2 separate regions of the Homo sapiens genome follow, and region 2 is linked to region 1. A link means that fine-mapping ties the variant in region 1 to the expression of a gene that starts in the linked region. Tissue or cell type: CD4 T cells. Region 1 holds a variant in brackets; the other region holds the start of a gene. All regions are shown on one strand. Distances are between the middles of the regions.

Region 1 (8,188 bases):
CTCTTTTGGATATTATTTTTAACACATGACTTTTAAGAACAATTACCTAGAATCACTTTTGTTGTAAAGCATTTTCTCAATTATCTTCTTTCATAGATATTCTTAGAATCACAAAAATCTTAACACATTTTTCTTGCCTCAGATGAACTATTGTTTAAAACAAGACTTAAAAAGAAAAGTAATTTAGGTGCTTCTACTAAAGATGTTCTTAAAACATCCCTAATGCTTTTTAAAAAACCAGTTTCACAGACTTTGCCCAATTTCCCTATGGAGCATTTACGCATGATTTGAGTTTTATCTGGTACACCTATTATAACAGCAGGAATTCTTAATATAGGTATACATTTAATAGCCACATTGTGAACAGCATGAATAAAGGAATAACATGACCTCAAATCAAAATATTGGCACAATGCCCTGAGCACCCAAAGGCGAGGAAGGAGCCTTTGACTCCAGGTTTCATAAACGGTACTCAGCAAAATTTCAGTTGACTTATTGCAGTCAAGTCTATGTTGAAAAGCAAACTCATGGTATAAAAAGATATCAGACCACAGAGCAAAAACAAGGAGCTAGGTCTCAATACAAGCACTCTACTACACATCATGTGAATGAATAGCCAAAACTGTAGTGTTATTAAAATAAAATAATATTTATCACAAATTTTTTATATTATTACAGACTTCAAATGACAATATGGCAATTTATCTAAATTTTAAAAATGTTATTTTAAAAAATTCCCTCTATTAGATATGATTCATTTTCCAAATATATATTTTAACAACTTAGAGAGTACTAGGTTTGGAGAAAGATTTTGAGATAGCTTTCCTGTTTCCCAGAAGGTAAGATTTAGAAATACATCAGTCATGGATGTCAATTTATGATGGTTCAAATTGCCAAAGGTATTTGGTAAACTTGTGTCACTGTCAGAGATGTAAAGGTTGCTCAGCAGCTCCAATACAAATCAGTTACAACAGTGTTACACAAATGTGAGAATATGTGGGTGTGTTTATTCATGACAGTTCAATCTTCTGATGTATCAGCATTCAGTTACATAAAACGTTAACAATAGCAATCACAATAACAACATCAGTATAAGATGCCAAATACGATAAATATTTATTCACTTTCAGTATTATTCAAATTTAACAGCTCAGAGCTGTTTTGCAGCTTTGTGATACTCCACCATTCTCAGTCCTGCCTCATTGCACAAGATGGCTGCTTGTGCCCTAGTCATCCTATCCACATCCCAGGAAAAAAGAAAAGGGAATAAGAGAAGGGATATCTCAAAATCCCTTTGAGCATATTTCCTGAAAGTTACATGTAATACTTAGTTTTCATTGATCAAAATATTTTCATTTGTCCATAGTCATTGGTAGGAGGAATCCAGTCTTTGAGGAGGGCAGCAAGGTAGTCAGCTAAATTTGAGAGTTCTTATTATTTGGAAGAGAAGAAAAATTGACATTTAAAGTGGAGAGAATCTTTTTTTTTAACTTTAGAAAATATTAAAACAGATACCTTAGGCTCCTATAAACTAAAATTATAGATAATAACATAATTAACATATAAACAATCAGACTATTATTTACTATAATGCAAAAAAAGTTAAAAGTGTTAATTAAATTTTCACTTTTAAACTATTTTGTTGACATTCATAAATATAAGTGAAGAAATATTTGTATATATCAAAGAACATCCAAAACTTTTAAAAACTGTATAATTATATTCTATTAGTAGTAGGAAGAGAGGAGAGGGCTGTTTTTTTTTTTCTTTTTTAAGTGAAAAGTTAACTTAGAAATAATTTCATCCCACTCCTAAATCAGAATTAATACTCACAGTTGGGAGTTATACTGTCATATTTGAGAGCCACTGATTTGAACATACTATTTCTGGAAATGATTTCTTTTTAGTAATTACTAACAGTTTATGAAAAGATCTGCAATTTTATTTTTCCAAGTGTTCAAGTAATCTTAACTCATCAAAATGCTAAAATCTTGTATATCAAAGGCATCTAAGACTTACTCATGTAAATGGCCTGCCTGTTCTCTGACAGCTGGAACCTCTTAGTACAGCTCTGCAGCCTCAGCCCCACCCCCAGCACTGGCACTGATCTACTTTCTAAGCAGGAATTCTTAGCTCATTGTCCAACTTTAACCTCCACCCTGACCTGGCAGCCAGGTTTTCCTAGCTGAGCATCTGTACTTTACCTAGTCCCAGGGTTTTCTCATACTAGGCTCTTCAGGAATCCTTCCACAGAATACTGCTGAGTCCCCATCAAGACTGAGAATTAATCTTCCATTAATAGGAACCCACTACCTTACCAAGTAGCCTTTTATGCTGTTTGTTTGAACATCCATTCATTTACTTAGTAAATCAACATTGAAAGGTGACTACAAGGTCAGACATGATGCCAGGCCCTGGTAACAAAGATCAAAGACACAATCACCTGCCCTCTTGTGGGACAGGTAGCCGTAATTGTTAAAATGATTTAAAGACTTAGATTCACTTCCCTAAGAATTTCCATTCACTGTTCTTCATTGTTCTTAAGTCTGAATTCTAGTCACATGGAATAAATTTCATTTAGACTTTCACAGATGAGTCCTCCAATCTGGAATATTTTGAATAAGATATTCAAGCTTGTAAAACCCTGTTACTTTAACCTTAAAAGAAGTTGTTTTTAGTTTATTCACTGTCTTTTGGGATAAGTCTCACTTTGAAAATATCCTTCTTCACATGCAGGATTGAGAAATTAATACAGTACAAGAAAACTTTCTAGTATGTTTTACCTCTACTTAACAAAGCTGAGTTATTTCATCTAGAGTAGCATGTCACAATTGTTGGTCCCTCCTCCGAAAAAAAAAAAAATGCAAATATAGGACCTTTACAGTTTGCTTTTAAGCTAGTGATGATTTTAATTTCTGAAAGTTCTAGTCGCCTGAACTTCGGTGCCTTCCTTTAAGGTATCATCTGTGAAACAGTCTGCTATAGTGGGTGTTGAAATTGGATTCACATACTGTTCTTCACTTGCTATGAGAACTTGAGAAAATTAATATTCGAAACCTCAGTTATAAAATCATAAAAACAAGGGCCTTTACCCCTTAGAGTTTGTGAAGGTTACAGCCAATATATTTAAAACACATTGGCTGTCACAGTATAAGAATTTGATATATGTGAAAAACCAAAGTTAGGTGTCTTTTTAGTGATGAATGATTGATATATAGCTTAGGAATTATTCATCAAAATTAGAATTTAAGTTGGATAAAAATTATCCAATATAGTCCTGCTGTTTAATTCAATTCATTAACCACCCAATATGTGTTATGTTTTGTGTTAGGTGCTAGTGATTCAAAAATGAATTATGTATCCTAAAGTCAAGGAGCCCAAAGTCTAGTGAAGAACCTGACATGTATAGAAACGGTTACTCCACGATCACACAAATAATGCTTGACGGGGCAGTACTCCTGACCATCACATCCCATTGCATTGCAAAATACTGTGCTCCTCGCAGTGTTTCTCACAGCATTTAATGAGCATTCAACAAATATTGATTCATGAATGGATACAGGTTTCATACTCAAATATTTTAGGCAAAGAGTAATGTTGGCATTGTTCACATATGATATTTTTAGTTTTGAGCTTTGTGAATTAACTTCTTTTTATATTGCAGATTTACATGCATTTGGTATTTCTTATTTCTTGAAATTTAAATAATGGAGAAAAGGCACCATCAACACCTTCCAGAATAAATGTTTAGAAAGTTGATAAAATAAGGTTAAGTAAATATGTATTTATATAGTATTATAACAACTTTTAAAGGAAGTCGGGTTGGAAAAAATGGTTTGAAGGATATGTACCAAAATAGTTTAAAAAATAATTATCCTGGATAGTGAGATCATGAGAGATTTTGTTAATGTCCTTATACTTTAAAAATTTTTAAATACTTTTCATTGAATGTGTACATTAAAAGAGAGTTATGATAAACTCTAGCAGCAGAAAAGAAACTGGTAAGGTCCCAGGAATATGGACGATGGAAGATTAAGAAGCAACATGAGGAACCTGGGTGTGAGGGGGCCACAAGCTACAGAATAAGATTATCAGTAGAAGGTATTACAATGGTAATAAAGCATAGTTTTTCTACTTCGATAGTATCTAGATCTCTTCACATTTGGGGGCAGGTCATATCTCATTTTGTTATTGAGAAGGTCCATTGGCCAATGGGATAATTAAAGCATATTGACTGTAACCTATCTGCCCAGAATTTAGGTAAAAATATGGGAATGAATCTTGTTGCAACTTTAAAAAAATGAGTGGACTGTCCTCAAGCATAGTAATCTAAGTAATGTATCACAAAAAAATTAATTAATCTCTGAACCATGCACACACAGCTTTGATTTACCAACAAAGCAATGCATTTTCTAAACTCAAGATGTTTGTTTTTAAATACTGTGAGAGTCAGGATGGGACCAGGCTTGGTGGCTAACACCTACAATCTCAGCACTTTGGGAGGGTGAGGTGGGAGGATCTCTCTTGAGGCCAGGAATTTAAGACTAGCCTAGGCAACCTAGTGAGACCTTGTCTATACAGAAAAAAAAAAAAAAAAATTAAAATTAGCTAGGCATGGTAGTGTGCACCTGTAGTCCCAGCTACTCCAGTGGCTGAGATGGGAAGCTCACTTGAGCCAGGAGTTGGAAGCTACAGTGATCTATGATCATTTCACTGCACTCCAGCCTGAGTGACAGAGCAAGATCCTGTCTCAAAACAAGAACAACAACAGAAACATAAAAAATATAAATACAATCAGAGTCAGGATAAATACTTATAGAATTAATGAACAAATTAATCTTTTTATTGTTGCTGTTACCTTAAATCCTTTTTTTTTT[TC/C]TTTTTTTTTTTTTTTTGAGACGGAGTCTCGGCTCTGTCCCCCCGGCTGGGGTGCAGTGGCAAGATCTCGGCTCACTACAAGCTCTGCCTCCCAGGTCCACGCCATTCTCCTGCCTCAACCTCCAGAGTAGCTGGGACTACAGGCGCCTGCTACAACGCCCAGCTAATTTTTTGTATTTTTAGTGGAGACGGGGTTTCACTGCGTTAGCCAGGATGGTCTCGATCTCCTGACCTCGTGATCCGCCCGCCTCGGCCTCCCAAAGTGCTGGGATTACAGGTGTGAGCCACCGCGCCCAGCCCTTAAATCCTTTTATCTGAAATAATTTAAAGGTGACAGGTATATAAATTGGCAGAACTACATAATTTTAATTAAAAGTATTATTTGATTTCCCTTGATGAGGCAGAATGTCTTCCTCTAAATTCCCAAAATATCAAATTAATATCTTAATTGTCTAACTTCCGCATTCTCTTTTGTAGTATAGGTGTTTACTTACGCATTTTATTATAATTTCCCTACTGCTAGTTCTGTGAGTTTGTGATCTGTGCCTTATTCATCTGTATATTCCCTAAGAGCAGAGTTAAATTATTTTTTAGAACTGGTTTTATAAAAATACAGTAAGTAAAAGCATTCCCTCAAAATTCTAAGAATATTTTGTGGACTCAATCAACATTTATTAGAGTACTATAAAATATTTTTCATTTTATGAAACTAGGATTGTGGAAACCTGCATTCCAAAGCTCCACCTCACGAGTGGTCTGTGATCAACAAATATCAACCTTTTATCTATTCTCAGTATTTTCTTTGAATACAATGCTTTTTTTGAATACAATGCTTTCTTTCTTCCGTGCAATTGAATTCTGTCATCATCCCTCTGCACATTCCAGATGGGTGGAGCTAGGGAAAGCCTTCATGGAAAGGGTTTCATCTTTCTGAACATTCACCACACTGGTAAGTTCTATAGCAAAGACTTTCTTGGATTTTGTTGAGTTGTAGTTTTCTTTTTAATAATGATATGGTTAATCCATTAAAATAATAATGTTACACCAAATCTGATTTCATATTTCTTTTCCTAAAGTAGAAAATTCTCAAGTTGTTTAGTGAAGTGCTAAATGCTTTATATTGACAGACTACCGCTGTTCAGCAATCTATATTTGCAGCCTGTCAAACGAAAACAATAGTTGGATCCTCTTTGTTGTTCACGGTACTTTAAATTACAAATGATGTTGATTTTAATCGTCTTTGCTCTATTCACTCACAAAGCTGGATGCTGTACAAGTCAGCTCTCAGATTTTGTATAAAATACTTTTTATTGGGCTTAGCACTTGCCAGCACTTTACACCTTCAAAATACTTTGTAAACATTAACTAGTCAATTCTTACAAAAAAAAAAAAAAGTAAGAAGAAAACAAATCCTGATGGTAGGTGTAAATCAGGTCTAGAGAAAAGAGTTTTTCTATAGCTTAAATTTGAAGGCAAGGTATTTATTCGGCTGTTTATTTTTAAACCAATAGAGTATATTTCAGGAAATGATGATCAGTTCTTCACTTTCCATTATAACAAAGCACATAATTTCAATTTTATTAATCATACAAAATATAGAAGTATTAATATTATTAATGACCAGTAGAACGTATGCCATATGACAAAGCTCCTAAATATATTGAATGCAGCTTTGGACCCTACACAAAGAAAATGTTTTGTGACAGTTAATAAAACTCAACTTGTCTCAGAGGATTGACATGTATGGGTCACTGCTTCTTTCTGTCCTGTAAGTAGCAACAGCTTCACTGGTATAGATACAGGTAAGACTAGCTTGGTCCAAACCTAAATGAGTCCCCAAGTTCACATTAAATATATAAAAATATATAGCACAGCAGGGTCAAACTAATGTATTATTTAAAGAGAGCACTATAAATTTTGTGTCTGCTTTTCTAAGTAAAATATATCTTCTGGCTTCATTGGTTCTGCTCTTCCTCCATTCACTTTTATAAAAATTCCCTCATTTTAACCAATGCTTTCAAAAGGAAAAGTTTGTATATTCCTCTTGGAAAATAACATGCTTACTCTGATCATAAAAGAAACTCCATGATAAGCCTAAAATATTATTAATAGTAAATGTTGTATTGAGTATTGATTGGGGATTTTTCAATCATGTCATAATGAAAAGGAAAAAAATTGTAATTTTGCCATTTAAAAATTTGGAAATTGAAAACAGAAAGACAAAGGTTCATATCAAGAAAAAACTTCAAGGCTGAGGTTATGGAGGGAAACAGTTTCAATTTGATAGCTGATTGTGCTGTGACCATAACTCAGAAAGCTGTCTGTGATATATATTAAGGAAAGCCTGCACTATATTTTCAACAATTAAACAACTAGAATGCCATAAAATATACTCTTAAAAAATTTAGACAAATTAAATTTAGCAGAGTTTGAGCAAATAATGATTCACAGATCAAGAAGCACTCAGAACCAGAAGAGGTTCACAGAGCTCGACCCAGCAATGTGGGCAGGCAATATTTATAGACAGAAAAAGAAACTGACATACAGAAATAGATTGGTTATGGCTAGGTGTTTCCCTTATATGAGCCTGGTCTGAATAGTTGGCGGCCTCTGATTAGCTCAAGTGTGGCTGCTGTGATTGGCTGTGACTCAGCTATTTGTTATAAGAATATACTCTTAATTTAGGTTGCAGTTTGTTTACATCCTTAAGTTAGGTTGCAGTTTGCTTATATACTAAGTTAGGTCATAGTTTGCTATCCACAGAGACAGCTTTAGGCCAAATTTAATTTTATTTCACATTAGTCACAATTAAAAGCTATATGCCTAAAGGTTTAGATTTTAATTAGGAAACACTGCAAGTTTACTGATGTATTGAAAATAATGTTTTTACATTCCTTAAGAAATCTTTATCAAGGGAGGACAAGTTAGAGACTGAAACTTGAGATAAGTTACTGAAATTGCAAAATAAAAGCTATGGATAAACCAAAGTGATCTCACAATCTTCAGACTCCTTTCTTCTGTGTAAGCATCACAAGATTTACTTATGATAAATTAAAGGTAATATTATGCACATCCATCAGAGTTTGTGACATATTTAGGACAATTTTTTTTTTTTTTTTTTTGACAGAGTCTCGCTCTGTCTCCCAGGCTGGAGTGCTCGGAGCGCTGCAAGCTCTGCTCACTGCGCTCTGGCACCGCCTCCCGGGTTGTCGCCATTCTCCCGCCTCAGCCTCCCGAGTAGCTGGGACTACAGGCGCCCGCCCCCGCGCTCGGCTAATTTTGTTTTTGTATTTTTAGTAGAGACGGGGTT
Region 2 (8,188 bases), 640 kb after region 1:
CAAAAAAGTCGTGAATCTCAAGCTTCAGCACAGATCACTAACAAAACAGCAGTAAGAAAAAATTTAACAACATTGATCACAAATCATAAGACTATAAATATGAGGACCAGCACATAGCCCTTTCAAATATTGGTAAATAAAAATCACATTCATCATTAAAGTTTATATTATGAAAGGACAAATTTTAGGCAGAGAAATTGGTACAGTAGAAGCTGTGAGTTCTAATTCTAGCTATCAAAACATTTATTTTCATTTTTTTCATGGCCCTAACCTGAAGCCCACCAAAACATTTTCAAGAAAGAAAAGAAAGAAAGAAAGAAAGAAAGGAAGAAAGAAAGAAAGAAAGAAAGAAAGAAAGAAAGAAAGAAAGAAAGAAAGAAAGAAAGAAAGAAAAAGAAAAACAGGTAGTATTTTCAGAGTGGCTATTTAAGAAGAGACCACTAATGGAAAAGCACTTGGAAAAAAAACATCAATTTTTAAAAATTCTTTCAAAATAGTGAAAATATTTTGTAACCACTAATCTCAAAGACCACTAAAAACAAGTAAAAGATGAACCAAAACATCTCTGGAGGAATACTAACTGAACACTAAGCAGAAATAAAATGGCTTAACTGTCAAAGTACAACACAACAATGAAAACAAAATGTTTAGCTGCACCTAGATGCTCATCTTAGAGGCTTCTTTCAAATATTCTTACTTTACCATTTGCAACTTGCAAAAAGTAAGTCATCAATACTCTTTAAGAAGAGTTAACTAGGGTGTGACTTTTCTGAAACCATCCTTGACCTTACAAACAAACCATTAACCTTGCCAACTTTGTAAGATAACCCATAATTCGTTCAGTAAGACAAAAATGTGTTTCTCTTTCTAGTATCAGTTCTTTTAATAGCAATCCACCCCCTTAAAGTGCAGCACTCATTATCTTTCCATTTCTGCTAGTAAAAATTAAACCTAGGTTACTAATATCTTCTTATCACGTGGTGTCATCCTTCTACTTTTAGAAAAATACTCAGTTTCACTGCAAATATGACCGACAGTAAGTGGAACTAAAGGTCAACATGCAGCCTTTACAAGAAATTTGTCTCTTAGGAAGTATCATCAAAATGGAACAGGTGTACACTGTGGAATTGGCTAATCTTTGGGAAGGCTTAAAACCAGGTACTCATTTTGATAGGCTGGTGACAAAATCAAAGTTCTCTCTGGAGGAAAGGAGCTGATCCCCCACCTCACCCCCAGCTACAAATCAGCAAAGAAATTTTAAACCCTGTACATAAAGCTTTATTACTCTAACCATATTAAGTACTTTTGAGTTAATTTTATAATAGCTCTCTAAAATACACAGAAATATACAAAGAAAATAAGCAAATTCATTGACTGTTATATAATATCAATAAATATATCTTATACACTGAAATAATTACTAACACTTTCATTTGCAATTAAATAAACTGTTAGCAAAAGCATATTCTATACATCAATTATTATCAAATTAACAGGTCTCTGTATTCATTAACTCTTATATTCCATCCTGTTCATTTTACTTTTCAGTTTATAATGCATTCACAGTTACATAATTAAAACACTGAGGATTCTGTGACACATTCATTAAACTTAATAGTGTAATCATAAATCGCGGCCAAAAGCTTCTGCCGTAATAACCAATACTATATTTTGAAATGACTGGGAAAATAAACTTTGCAAAAGGGTCATTTCTACCTCTATAGTGTCAATCCAGCATTACAGGATTTGAGAAAATAAAACAACTAACAACCCTAAATTGTAGGTTGGCTCTTCGGAAAAAAAAAAAAAAGGAAAATGAGTCTAGTAACATCAGAAATATGCAAGAATTGTTCTTTCAGCTAGGAGCGGCAAGCACACTGTAAAATGCCTCCATTCTTCCTGCTCAAATAAAAAGTTCCCAGCTCCAGCTTTACCTGTGCACCACACACACACAAACACACACACACACACACACACACACGGAAATCTTGGTTCCACCCAAATCAGTAACCCACTGGGTTGAAAACTGAGGTGGAAGGAGAGGCAGGGAGTCCCTAAGCGTGTGGAACACTAGCAAGGGGAAAAGGACGGGGCCATCATTCCCTTCGCGTTCCCATCTCCTTTCTGGCGGAGACCTGCAGATTCCACCACTAGAGAGAGTTTGGCAGCTTCACAATGGGGCCGCGTTGCTGGAGGTCTGACTGCCACCCGCCTCGAAACCCCTCTCCTCCGCTTCCCACCTGCCCCAAAGTCCACCCGCGACAGGTGGGGCGAGGGTGGCAATGCCCGACATCTGCCGCTTAAGCTTCTGGCTCGGACCGGGCCCCAATCCACACGCGCACACACGGCCACAGCCGGCCAGTCCACCCCCACTGCACCGGCAGACACTCGGAGGGCGCGGGCGGCCTCGCACGCGGGTTGCAACCAGGACGAGGAGGGTCGGCGAGATCAGACCGCCGGGGCTCGCCCTGAGGTGCTATCTGACCCGGGCAGTCGCACCCTGAGCGCGGCCGGGCACGCAGCCAAAGGTGCCGCCGGCCGGGGAAAGCTACTTCTCAAAGGGGCCTCCAGGCCCGCTGCCCCGCGGTGCGGGAACAGCGGCCAAGGGAGGGAGCGAGCGAGCGTGCGCGCCAACGCGCCCCGACTTCCGCACCGCGGCACCGCGGGAGAGGCGCTCCGGGTCGCCGAGTCCCCGCACCTCCCCAGCGAGCGCACGACGCGCGCACACGGGGGCGCACGCCCCCGCACACTCACACGCGCTGCACACTCACGGCGTCTGCGGCCCCACCCCTGTGCCAGGGAACCGCAAGCTCCCCGCACCCCGCGCGGGCCCCACCCAGTTTACCAGACCCCAGTCCCCTTCGGGTGCCTGGGAACCGGTCCACCAAGGCCAAGGGACGCTGGGGCCGCCCCGCCGCCCATCGCAGAAGCTGGTCCGGCCGGGTTTCCCCAGCACCGCGGGCATCGTGCGCCCGGCCCAGACACGAGGCGGAGAGGAAGGGGCGGCGCCGCGATTAGGGCTGGCACTGGGGATCGGAGCCTGGGGCAAACCCACTCCCCCAAGCCCCCCATAACCACCACCTTTTCTGCAGCACAAAAGGTTACAGACGGAGCCGTCGTCCCCGTGCAACCTACCGATGGCCCAGGGCTCCGCTGCCTCCGCCGTGCCCGGGGCTGCGGAGCGGGAGACAGGGGCGGGAGAGGCGCAGGACTGCGGCGCCGAGATCCAGGCAGAGGCCGCCAGCCGAGCCAGCCGGGTACCCTCTCCTCTCCCACCGCGCTCGGCGCCAGCTACCGCCCTGCTTAGTCCCCGCCCCCTCCTCCGCCTCCTCCTCCGCCTCCTCCTCCGCCCGCCTTCCCGCCTCCTCCCTCTGGCTGCAGAGGCGCAGCCCGTCAGCGCTGAGCCCGCCTCCTGCGCCCAGCTCTCAGACACCCGGAGGAAGGGCGGGCCGGCTGGCTGCAGAAAGGCGCTAAGAGGCCAGAAGAAGTTGGCGGGGGTGGGCGGGGTTGTTGACTGGTGGTGGGGAGGAGGAGTCGCAACACCCGCTCTCTAGTCTAAACCCAGCACTCCAACTAAAGAGCTCCAACTTGCGGACCTGGGAACACTCCGGCTTCCTCAGTTAAGTGGTGTGCTGATATTTGTCACTTGTGAGTCTCTGCTTAAAGGGCTCAGCACTAAGCAAAAGTACAGAAAACTAGAAGGCCATGAAATTAAAAATTATAGGATCAGTCTACGAAAACTCGTAATACCCAGTGAAGGTGGCGGGGTGGGGCGGGGGGGGGAGTTCAAATTCAGATTCTGATTGGATTAACTATTTTTTAATTTGCACAAATGTTGATCTTGTCTATTATTGTAATAAATTATTTTCTTTGATGAAGATTTGCTTCTCTCAATTCATGTACATTTCTGCCGAACTGGTTAAGCTCAGCAATAAGAATATTTACTGGCATGCATATCCAAATTTACATCTCTCAATAACCATTCTGTGAGGAAGTAACCAATTATGATCCACATTTTAAAAATGCAGAAAGTTTAGGTCATATGCCTACTGAGTGGCTAAGGCTGAATGTGTACGCAGTCGGTGAACCCCAAAATTGTTTATAAGTGTTATAAATTTCGGTACCAGTGTCCAATCAAGAGAGTTTTATTTTTTAAAAGACAAAATGCTTTATCTTAACATAAAAGACATAAATCTGGAGTAGATTAATATAAGTTTAAACGAGTCTTGATTCACACTTGTTCCAGAATCTACATATGTTCCTGATAATATAAAGGCAAAAAATATATAAACACCTCTAGTCCAACAGAACCACTCCCGGAGGCCGCTCAGCTATAAGCCATTTTATGCTACTGCTTATGTGCCCTAAAATAAGTAAAGGAAGGTAGAGGGAAGAATAAGTTTTAAGGAATGTTCCCTAAACAATTTTACAAAACATCAGTTACTTTTTTTCCCGACATAGATTTGCATGTAATTTCAAAAATATAGAAGCTAGCACAACATAATATGAATAAATAAATGAAGAAACTTTTTTTGCATCAGTACATTAGGAGAATACACCGAGAATTATTTCCGATTATAATCTGTTTGACACAATAGTGTATTGTCCTGATGATCATTCTCATAAAACCACCTCCAAAACATTGTATATTTTATATTAAGAGACTTAATTTCATTTCTTCCTGTCTGAAATCTTATAACTTTTTCAGAAGAATGTCTTGTACTTGCCCTTTGCGCTGAGAGTTTGGCAGTGTGCTTTGGCCAAAAGCAATAAAGTTCCCCTCTTAGTTTATTAGGCTCAAGGCTAGCTCTCTTGAGGGCATTGTCTCCAAATTGCCTCCCTCCCTGGGTGGTGTTCTATGCTCCCATCCTAACCCTGAATCTTCACCCAATCAGAACCTAAGTCAGTTCTTGAGTGTCACAAAGAACACCTAATAAACCAATTCACCATGCAGTAATGGTTGATAATAGCTTTATGTGTGGCTCCATCAAGGATATGTTTATGCCACCTAGAGATACTGACTGGGTATTGTCTTCACTCGGATTGGATGTGGGTTGCAAGTGCCGTGGCTGAGGGGCATATAAGAGGTGCAAGTTAATGCAGAATCCCTTCCCAGAGCTTTTTAGTGTTTTAGGAAGATCTCTTCAACCTATAAAGAAAAATGGCATTCATATAAAGGGTTAGGCCCAAATGTAGAATAGACCCAGAGCCCTGAAAGGCCTTCTGAATTTGGGGACTCAGAAGCTCCATCTCACACACTCCTTGTGTAAGTTATGTCTTTGCCTCAAGGCATCCTTTCCAGAAAATCCCTTTAAAATGACTTTAAAATGTCAGCTGCCTGGGAAATATTATACTACGTTGATGTAAATGATGTCGGCTAGCAAACAACCAGCTTGAGAGAACAGAATAGGTGAATTTGATAACAACATAATGATGTAAAACAGAATCTACAAAGACAGGTGTGCAAGAAATACCACATTACCTTCTTTTCTATAAACTCATTTGTTTCAAGCAGGGTCTAACCAGGAAAACAGAAACCATTTTGAGTATCTACAGAAGTAATTGAATGCAAGAAATTGGTAACGTAGGTGATAGGAAAAGTCAGAAGCTAATCAGGAGATGGCACAGTAATCCAGAAACTAGCAACTGCGACCTCTAGCTGGAGAAATAAGAGAAGAGGCAGGGTTATTGGAGTCCAGGGCCCAGGCAGCATGGCCAGCCTGGTGAGAGCTGCGGCCATAGAGGAGAAACAACCACTGCCAAAGAAGCAATCTAGGGAGGGAGAAGGGGGAAATGTACTATACGTTCTCCTCTCCTGCCCTCCAATCTCCTTCCAGTGCCTTGCATTGGCCAAGTCTGATACACCTGCCATGGGAGCCAGGGAAACAGCCTACGGGGATCAGCCCTTTGAGACACTGAGGAGACTAGGAGAAGAACATAGAACGTGAATCTGCACTTGATTTTATTTCTCTTTAAAGGCCTTACTCTTTTGTAAAGTTCTTCCCTCATTCCCTCGAGCAGGGTCAAAGTTCCAAGAGCATATGCCAGACCAGACCATGAATGGGTGATGATGGCAGGGAGTGGAGGGGAGGTCCTTCGGATTGCAGTCATCTGTCCACAGAGGTTTCCTTTGTTCCTTCCTGGAGCTGCCACCTATGGTTCCATGATACAGTGCACAACCTGCCTATAGACGAGACGGCCCTGCCCTATACACTGGTTCCCTCCCTTTGGCTCCGGCACCACACCTGAGGCCAGAGGAATTTCCTAGATCTGGGACCATCCTGCTAAGCCTCACACATCCTCGGTCATTTATGTTTAGGGTATTATGGTGGTCCAAGTTCAGGGCTCAAATCCCACTGCCTTGGGACATACTGACTTCTATCCTCTTCTTTCCAGATACAAGGGAATCACTTCTTAAGGAAAATCCTTCCTCTTCATTTTTTTTTTCCCAGACACTCTGCCATTGCCAGCAAACTCTATTCTGTCTCTGGGGGCTCAGGTTGTTTTCAGTAAGAGCCAGAATGAAAAAATGATCTGCAGGCAACTCCTCTCTACCCTGCCACATCTCTCCCGAAGGCAACAAGGGGGTAAATACAAGTTGGAAAAAAAATCATAAATTAGTATCTCAAAATATTATCCAGCCATAGAAGTAAGAGACGGTTAGTATTGTGGACCAAGCTGAGGAGGAGAAAGGTGGAAGGAGCTTACTTTGGAATATGTTGAATTTGGTGACTCTGTGGCACATCCTCATGGAGGTGTCAAGCAGAAGGCCAGATATGTGGAGTGGGCGCTCAGGAGGGAAATTCAGGCTGCCCTTCAGCTCTTGCTAGACCACTTCTAACTCCACACTCACATTCTGCTTATTCATTATTTAAGCCTGTACATAATTGTTTCCTGTGGAGCATTCTTCTCCACCCCTCCCTCTCAGTCTAATTCTTTGCCATTCCTCAGATTTCATGTAGATGTCACCACCTCTAAGAAGAGTTTTCTGATTCCTACTGATATTTCTCATTTCCCTGGCCTAATACCACACAGTGCTGAAATATACTATCTCCCCCTCTAAACTATACATTCCCTGAGGTCTCAGACTATGTCTAACCCCCAAAGAAAGCCCAGAGACTGACATATAACAGGTGCTCAGTAAATATTTAGCCTATTTTTACTGCGAGGAGTGGGAGAAGAACCTGTAGTAAGGTCTGCTGAAGCCAGCTTGTATCTTGTATCTGGCTCAGAAGTACTGATTGCTAAATTTTCAGGAACTTTGCAAACTGGTTGTTAAATCATCAGTAGCTTGAAATCAGCTATGGTAGGAGTATTTACACCATAGAAATTGGCAAATTCTATAAACAGGGCTTCCCATTTCTCTCTAATCTCCCCACCCCCCAGAAAGCCAGTTTACCAGCATACCATTTGATAATCTTCAAAGGGCCCCTCCTGTGTGCGGAGGAGGACAGCAGTTCAGAGAATTAAAATCTGTGCTTTTAGAAATATTCTTTCATAGAAAGAAAATGTAATTAAATTCCATAATTTGCATAGAAAAGCCTATTTAACTCAATTATATCAATAAAAAAAGAAGATAGAAAATAGAGGAAACAAAAATATAACAGCATTATAAACAACAGAGAAATCACTTCTCAGTTCCAGCTTGCTGTGGGACCTCCGGTTGGTCACTAAATTATAAGCTTCTTAAGAAACTTGAGTTGTGTTTATACGTGTATCCTTTACAATATCTAGACTGGCACAGAACAGGTACTCATAAACTACCACTTGAATCTGGGCAAATTAAACTTTACTTCTGTTGGCCTCAGCCCCTTCATTCATAAATTAAGAGGTGAGAGAAATGGTTTTCAAGAGGGCCCAAGTAGCACCCCCTTTCCTGCCCCATTCCAAACAAATTGAGAAATAAAAGGCATAAAGGTGGCGCCAATTGTTTCTGTAACATTGGAGGACATAGTTTAATGTACAATTACAGTGGTTCTATTTTTTAAATCCCATAATTAGACTGATATACCTACCCAATAAGAGGCAAAACCGGGCCAGGCAGGCCTCCTCACATCAAAGCCTGCCAAGGTAAGACTTAGGTTTTAAGGAACAGAGAACACCTACTCCCACGCAGGCACTTTATTGCCAAGAAGGTAATGAAAACAGCTAGGTTGAGCATGCCCAGTTTAATTCTCCAATGAGATAC

Alleles and levels. Positions count from the first base shown, and alleles are read on the strand shown. Sizes are in standard deviations (SD) of each study's normalised expression.
With allele TC in place of C in region 1, the expression in CD4 T cells of the gene that starts at base 3,269 in region 2 is higher (large effect, 1.6 SD a copy in Kasela 2017).

Evidence for each region. PIP is the estimated chance that this variant, and not a neighbour inherited with it, causes the effect.
Region 2: it holds the start of MACIR, and the variant in region 1 is fine-mapped to the expression of MACIR in CD4 T cells (Kasela 2017, PIP 0.95).

What each region holds. Positions count from the first base shown.
Region 1 is chr5:103,888,971-103,897,158 of GRCh38, reverse strand. All of the region lies in intron 3 of LOC105379107 (a long non-coding RNA gene), which reads right to left. LOC101930276 (a long non-coding RNA gene) reads left to right here and starts at 5,762. Exons shown (of 3, transcript XR_427752.4): 1 at 5,762-5,827. The variant TC/C (reference allele first, on the strand shown) is at 4,878.
Region 2 is chr5:103,253,844-103,262,031 of GRCh38, reverse strand. MACIR (macrophage immunometabolism regulator) reads right to left here and starts at 3,269. Exons shown (of 3, transcript NM_033211.4): 1 at 3,136-3,269. RefSeq lists silencers at 2,509-2,888, 3,099-3,608.